2 linked regions of the Homo sapiens genome follow. The protein of the gene in region 2 purifies or fractionates together with the protein of the main gene of each other region. This does not show direct contact. Each region holds a gene or a part of one and is shown on either strand. Other genes may lie near its edges.

Region 1 (3,887 bases), on a different chromosome or scaffold from region 2:
GAGGCACTGTCATAGAGGGTAAGATAGAGCAGTGAACAAAGATAAAAATCTCTACTCTCAGGGATTCTAGTGGATTTGGGATCTGGAATAGGGCCAGGGTTAGAATGAAGTTCACAGCTAGGGATAAATTCAGGATCTGGGTCCAAGTCAGTACTAGTGTCAGAGTCGCAGTCAGGGCTGGTGTACCTGCCCAGCGTTAGGAGTGAGGGTTGGTATCAGCCCTCACTGATCAAGCTTGGGGCATAATCAGAGATGGCTTCAGGGACAAGCTGACTTCAAGGTCAGAGAGGAGCCTTACTGCCTCTAAATTCTGGCCACAATGGTGGGATTGAACTCAGGCCCTATCACTGCCTCCTTGAAACGCACCTACAAGGTCCTGGGGCCCTCGTACCCCCAAGGGGCCACTCACCTGATCCAGGAGATGGAGCCTGGAAACGTAGGCCTTCTCAGTTTGCAGGAGCTCATTGGCAATGTGAAACACCTTTTGCTGCACAGTCAACTGGAAAGGAGAAACAGTAACCCCTGATCCATCATCCTCTATCGTAACCCTCACCCAAGCCCCCAGAATTCTTAAAACAGTTCCCATGCCACTCTAAGCCTAATACCACCCTAGGATAACCTTGACCCCCATCTCTAGATCTGTAAGTCCTTCAGCTTCATCCCTGAGTCCCCAGTCTACCATAAAGCCTACCCCTCCATTCTGATGACGTGCACTCCCTCACTCAACAACTCATTCACCCGCTCTCTCTATTCACTCAGCAGAGTGTAGTGGTTAAGCATGTGGGATGGTAAGTCAGACTTCCTGGGTTCAAATCCTAAGCTCTGCCATTCACTAGCTTGTGTAAGTTCTTTAACAGCTCTGTATTTAGGACGCCTCATCCATAAATACAGATAATAATAGAATCTATTTAATGTAGAGGCTGGTGAGAAACAAAAACAAAACCAAAACAAAATAATAATAGGACTGAAGTCCATTGGTAATGGAGACAATTAGATAATTTAATATAAATAAAACACATCAGACTACAGATTAAATGGTATATAAATGTTAATTAATCATTTATTCACCCACTCAGTACACTATCAGCAAGGGCTTGCTGAGTACCTGGGGTGTGAGAAAAGCACAAAAGTATAAGAACGTATAAAACTCATTGCCTGTTGGCCTAGTTTCCTATTCCTTAGATATATGTGTTGACTACCTGCCATGCCGGCAGTCCCTGGCTTTGGCCCCTACACTTGAGCTTGGTCCTAGCAGAGCAAGTATTCCGGCTGAGATCTAACTCAAGTGCGATGGTGCCTTCTGAAGAAATGTTAGGCTGCCCGGGCACAGAAAGGGGTCTCTGCTGCCAAGAGCCTTCATCTGCACAGCCTCGGGCCCCTGCAGGGCTCTAGCTCTTGCGCCCCTCCTCCAGCTGTTGAGAAGTCTCTATGGATGTAAGTAAGAGACTTTCCGTATTACAAATAAGGAAACTGAGGCTTATGGTAGGGAAGCAGAAAGGGAAAAGACTTGCCCAGTGTCACAGAGCTTGGAAACAAGGTCCTATTTCGAGAAATACTGAGCTAGGGGAAGAATCAAGCACAAAAGGCGCTTCCAGGTTCTCCACATGGACCTGCCTCTCGGTGAACACAGGTCAGTACCTCCACAGACTCCTGTCTCTCCATCAGGGGCACTGGGATTTCTCTGTCCTTCTCTTCCTCCTCCTCCTCGTCGTCCTCCTCCTCCAGGTCACTGTCAACCTCTTGGGAGCCAGGCCGGTGGGGGTCGGCCAAGGCAACAGGCACACTAGCCAGGGCAGGGGGCCCAGGGCAGAGGCTGTGGCTGGGGGGCCCGTCATCACTGACGAAGCAGGTCTCCTCGCTGTTGGATGGCGAGCTGATGCTATCAATGCCGCTGTCCCGGTTGGGCACCTTCTCACCGTCCCGGGGCCCAGGAGCCAGCAGAAACAGGCAGCGGGAGGCCTCACCCTCGGGGAGCTGGGGCACTGGTGGCTGCGAGGTTGGCTGTGGCAACATGACTGGCTCTGGGGGACCTGGGCTGGGGCCAGGGACTGGTCTATCCGAGGCGACAATCACAGGCTCTCTGAGGTGGGTGGTGGACACACATGGAAGCAGGGTATGAGCTTGACTGAGAGGCCTCTCCTGACTATCCCTTCCTGTCCCAGGCTCCCCCTTTCCCCTAGAGGGTGCCCTAGGGACCAGACTCACCTTTCAAACTTCTCAATCAGTGAGGATACTGCTGCAGAACTGGGGCTGGCCTCTGCCCTGGGAGCCAGGCCCTTGGCCACTCGGGGGTCGGCAGGCAGTGGGCGTGATGGTGGAGGGGGGATGGGCTCCAGTGGGGGGGGCATCCGGGGCATCTGCAGGTAGCTGGGCTTTGGGGGCACTGGAGAGACGAATGGGGAAGAGAGAAGGGAGACATCAGTGAGCTGGATTTGAGCCTGGCTAACATGGTGAAACCCCATCTCTACTAAAAATACAAAAATTAGCTGGGCATGGTGGCACGTGCCTGTAGTCCCAGCTACTTGGGAGGCTGAGGCAGGATAATTGCTTGAACTCAGGAGGCGGAGGTTGCAGTGAGCCAAGATCATGTCACTGCACTCCAGCCTGGTGACAGAGTGAGATTCTGTCTCAAAAAAAAAAAAAAAAAAAGCTGGATTTGGAGGTGGCTGGCTGTCATGGCCAGGCCACAACCCCTTCCACAAACACCAATCTGCACCTTTGCCTGAGGTAGACACAAAGGGGCTAAGGTGAGATCACAGTATGCACACATTAGCCTCAGGCCACAGCACTCTGTGCACTAGGTAGGTAGCACTGCCCTGGGAGCATGGTGGCTCCCTATCCTTCTAACAAACCCTCTTCTCTGCCACTGGCTAACTTCTCCCCTCCTCTGTACCCTCCCCTGGGCCACTTCTCTGCTCTTTTCCAGGACCACTTACCCTGTGGCTTCGGGCCCGGTGCCCGCTTCAGTGGTGAAGGACGCTGGCTAGGGGTTTCAGTCGGGGGACCTGGGTCTGAGCGAAGCCGCTGGGGACCTTCTGGATGAGGCTCTAGGCTTTGGCCAGGGTCAAGGGACAAACTTTTAACCAGGATCCGGTTTCCCTGGTGCAGCCCTGCAGGAAGGGAGAAAATGGGTGTGAAGTAACTGACTTTAACCCAAAGGGGACTGGGGTTAAAGTTAGGACTGGCATGTCTTAGCAGCTATCTGGGGTATTGGGTTTCTCTGAGCCCCTTTCCTGGCCACAGTGTTTTTCTGGGAAGCCCCTATCCTAGCCCTCAGATGGAGAGCCAGACCCAGGGCTGGGGCTGGCTGTTTTCATCAATAGATAAGAATTCTTTGTGACTAGTGCATTGATTCCATGTATGTCAGCAGGCAGTATCACTAGGGAGTTTAACCAGGCTGGGGGTGGCTGTGAGCACCCTAAAGTTTATACATGCGTTTGCAGCCCTTGTTTCTACAGCCACATAGGTATGCTGAGTATAAACCATTCTTCAACGCTTTTGTTAAGGCCCTGAGAATATCTAGACTTTCTTGTTTACAATTTTGTGCAGCTAAGTGTGCTTAAAAATGATGAAATTGTGTTTCATGAGCAAGTTTTGCTTCTTGAAATCCCAACTTCTGGCTGGGCACAGTGGCTCATGCCTGTAATCCCAGCATTTTGGGAAGCTGAGAAGGGAGGATTGCTTGAGCTCAGGAATTTGAGATGAGTTTGGGCAACAAAGTGAGACCCTGTCTCTACAAAAAATATAAAAGTTAGCTGGGCAGTGTGGTGTGCACCTGTATTCCCAGATACTTGGGAGGCTGAGGTGGGAGGATCACTTGAGCCTGGGAGGTGGAGGTTGCAGGGAGCTGAGATCACCCCACTGCACTCCAGCCTGGACAAAAGAGC
Region 2 (3,887 bases):
TTTTGTATCAGAGAATGGAACAGAAGTAGATTCTGCACCACTCCCTTTACCTAGAGTTCTAATGCTTAAATCAGGTTAGAAAACTGTTGCCAGGTAGAAACTAAGAGTCATTAATTAGTCCTGTAATCTTATTTAAACAAAAACGTTCTTTCTTTCTTTTTTTTTAAGGTGCTGGAACAATTGAGAAAGAAAAAAATGAGTAGTTTTGAGCTACAGAAAAGCAAGACGATTTATATTATATTTGACATTCATATACACAAAAACAGAATACTGTCACTTCCACAAATGATAAACTATTTTGCTGAATTAAGATATGACAGAAGGTGACAAAATGACCATATCATTAAGGAATTGAAAAACTACTCTCTGATCCTCATGAAGTTAGCTGTAAAACAGTATACTTACTTCTCTGATTCAAAATCTCCCTGTTCTTCAAATTTTACAGTGTGCCTTATTAATCTCCATTGCTTAATGTCAGGTGTTGGATTCCAGAAAACCTCTGAATTATCAGTCTTTTTATCAGTAATAAAAACTTCACTATCCTATATTTAAAAAAATTCAAAATTAATGTAAAGAATTATACTTAGAAGGCAATTATATAGTATAGTAATATGACGGTGATAATTTCTTCTGGTTAATCCTCCAGTTAAAAGCATTTTTAAAACAAATATAACTAGCACTTTTCCAAAAACTCCAAGTTTCTTATCATTTTTATAAAAACATTAAGATTGACTACGTAATACTAGTTAATTAAAAAGAATTTGGTTGAATATCCAGTTTGTGAAATTTCATAAGTTTTACTTAATAAATTTCAAACATTACATGCAAAGCCTCAATAACCATCTCCAAACTGTCCAAGTAGAGCATAGTATTTGTTGCAGCTACAATGAGATGCTGTTGACTATCCATGGATTCAATATACTCAAACATACACACACACACATCCCTCTGAAAGAGCCTTTACTAGCATTAAAAATTTGAGGTCTATCTCTATCGAATAATCTTTCTATCTAAGACATGGACGGTCTTGCTCTCTTGTGTAGGCTGGAGTGCAGCGGTGCTATCTACCTTATCTATCTAATCTATTTTACCTATCTAATTTATCTACCTGTTTAACCATCCTTCTCCTTCTCTCTCTCTCTGTCATCTCTCACTCTCATCTCTATCTTATCTATCTGTCTGAGACAGGGTCTTGCTTTCTCACCCAGGCTGGAGGGCAGTAGCACAATCATGGCTCACTGCAGCTTCCACCTCCCAGGCTCAAGCAATCTTCCTGCCTTAGCTTCCTGAGTAGCTGGGACAGGCATGTGCCATCATGCCCATCTAATTTTTTTATTTTTATGTTTAGTAGAGAAGAGGTCTTGTTATGTCACCCAGGCTGATCTCAAACTCCTGAGCTTCCCAAAGTGCTGGAATTATAGGTGTGAGCCACCCCACCCAGACAGAAATTTCATTTTTTAAAAATGACTGCTGCTTTATCTTTTTTCCAGAAGACTCTCAGATTTAAGGCAATTAAAAAAAATTTTCAGAGTGTATGTGGCCACTTAACAAAGTCCCTAACTTCACTTTCTCATATTTCTCAACATTTTCTGCTTACTGCATGCAGAAAGGAGCATATACTCAGTGCTCATAGTATGGTATATCCATGCAGTACCATGATTCTTTTTATTCATTTAAGCGTCTCTTAACAAAATTACATAAATATGAATTTAGGTTAGCAGAGAAGTAAATAAAAGCCATTGCTCTCACACACCACTATATCCTTTCCATGTTCCACTGAAAGGAATATAACTCTAATTGGAACTATGCCTCTTTCTTCTATGTGAGTAGAGTGCTGTGCATAAAAGCACAGTCCTGGGGCCAGGGTTCCTGGGCTTTAATTCTTGTTCCACTACCTACTTTGAGCAAATTATGTGAACTCTCTGTGCCTCAGTGTCCTCTTCTGTAAAATGGGGACAATAATAAACAATAATAAAATGGGCATGGCACCTATATACTCACCTCATAGCGTTATATGTTATAAATATTAAATCAGTTAATATGAGTAACATTCTTAAATAATGCAGTAAGTCATATATAAGTGTTAGCTATTTCTACTGATTTTAAGTTTTGGAAATAAAATATTACACAAAATTAACTACTGTTGATAACAGAACACCACCAAAATATCTGCTATTAAGATGAAGCTTATGTTAAATAGTGATGTTTTCAGCAACGGAATAAGTTTTAAATTTTAAATGTGATTTTTTTTTTCCCACAGAATAAAATTCTTTTTGTAAAGCTCATATACAAAATACTTACCCAATGACCTTCCAAAGTAGCTAGGACTTCTTTTCCCAGTTTAAGTTTCCCTGATATTTGATTAACACAGTCACTACTCCCTAGGAATGGCTTTTAAACGAGAAAATGTTAAACATTTTACTTTTCACTTATATTTACATATAATGTAAAACCAAAACAAAAAACCCAACAAAAATTGCTTGTATAGTTACAGTACTATTGAATGCACAAGCAGTAAAAAAATACTGACTCAAATTTTAGTTAGAAATGTTTAATAAGAAATCTGAATTGCTGCTATGAAAAAAATAGGATAAAACAAGCAGACTATATTAAATCAAAATAAACATATTAAGAAAGATCACCCTGATATAACTGACTCATGTTCCATGTATGCTCAAATCCTGTGTCCTCCCCTGTCAAGACTGTGCCCTATCAATGTGACGTTATCTTAAGCAATAACAACTCAATAAACCTAATGGAATTAACGATCCATTGAAATAAATAACACCCCTTCCTTAAAAAACAAACAAACAAAAGTAAAATATATAGCCAAAAAAAGCCTCCAAAAAATAAAATTAGAAGGAATACACTGAGTTACTATAATGCCTTACTAACATCTCTCCTTAGAGACAAAATTTTGATGCTCCAATGTCATACTTAAAGGCATCATATATACTTAAGAACTCATTCATCATGATCTTCAAACATTATCATCACCATACAAGGAAAATTTTGCCAAGGTGAAAGAAAAATAAAATAAAAGACATTGCATCAAATAATACTTAAGAGGTCTTTTTTATCAGAGCAAAATTGCTTATCAGCTGGATATCAACATAGCAGCAATTTAGTAATAAATATTACTAGTTTACAGAAATATTTTTATCTGAATATACTATTGTTCAAGAACAATTAATTCACATTAAGTTCTCAAATTTCCCTTTCATTTTGAGGCAGACAAAAATTTCCAAAGATGGCCTTGACAATACGTACCCTCTCCCCTTCAGCCCACATACTCTTCCTCAAGGAGACCTTGCCACTCTCCCAATGAGAAGTGGGGTCTATATTTCTTCTCCTTGAATTTGGGTGGTCTTACAATTCTCCAAATAATAGAAGATGGTGGAAGTGATATAATTTGGCTTCTCAGGCTAGGTCATGGAAAGGAAATGCAGTTTCTGTCTTGCTCACTGGGGCACTTGCACTTTGAAACCCTCAACTGCCAAGTAAGAAGTCTACTTTGAGGCTGTCATGCTGTCAGGAAATCAAGTCACATGGAAAGGCCATGTATACAGGTGCTCAGATTAGCAGTTCTAGTCCTTCGGTCACCCTAGACCAGGTATCAGATATGTAAGTGATAAGCCTTCAGGTGATTACAGTCCCTAACTATTGAGTCACCCATGGCCTACAAAGTCTTTCTGAGACCCCAGACATTATGAAGCAGAGATAAGCTATCCCCAGTATACCCTGTCCAAATTTTTGACTCACAGAACTCATGAGGAACAGCACATAGTTATTAAGTCTGTGAGTTTTAGAGTAACTTATTACACAGAAATAGTGACTAATACAACTGTGCCTTGGTTTACACAGCTAGACTGCAAGATGACACATAT

Evidence for each region. The genes of interacting proteins can lie anywhere in the genome.
Region 1: the proteins of OSBPL8 (region 2) and FGD1 purify together in Homo sapiens (affinity purification with mass spectrometry; one large-scale study listed by BioGRID and IntAct). This does not show direct contact.

Annotation. Positions count from the first base shown.
Region 1 is NC_000023.11:54,468,378-54,472,264, forward strand, and holds part of FGD1 (FYVE, RhoGEF and PH domain-containing protein 1), read right to left. Parts: intron 3,111-3,887; coding exon 2,937-3,110; intron 2,384-2,936; coding exon 2,206-2,383; intron 2,081-2,205; coding exon 1,639-2,080; intron 500-1,638; coding exon 410-499; intron 1-409. UniProt on the Homo sapiens protein: Activates CDC42, a member of the Ras-like family of Rho- and Rac proteins, by exchanging bound GDP for free GTP. Plays a role in regulating the actin cytoskeleton and cell shape.
Region 2 is NC_000012.12:76,371,043-76,374,929, forward strand, and holds part of OSBPL8 (oxysterol-binding protein-related protein 8), read right to left. Parts: intron 2,392-3,887; coding exon 2,302-2,391; intron 543-2,301; coding exon 406-542; intron 1-405. UniProt on the Homo sapiens protein: Lipid transporter involved in lipid countertransport between the endoplasmic reticulum and the plasma membrane: specifically exchanges phosphatidylserine with phosphatidylinositol 4-phosphate (PI4P), delivering phosphatidylserine to the plasma membrane in exchange for PI4P, which is degraded by the SAC1/SACM1L phosphatase in the endoplasmic reticulum.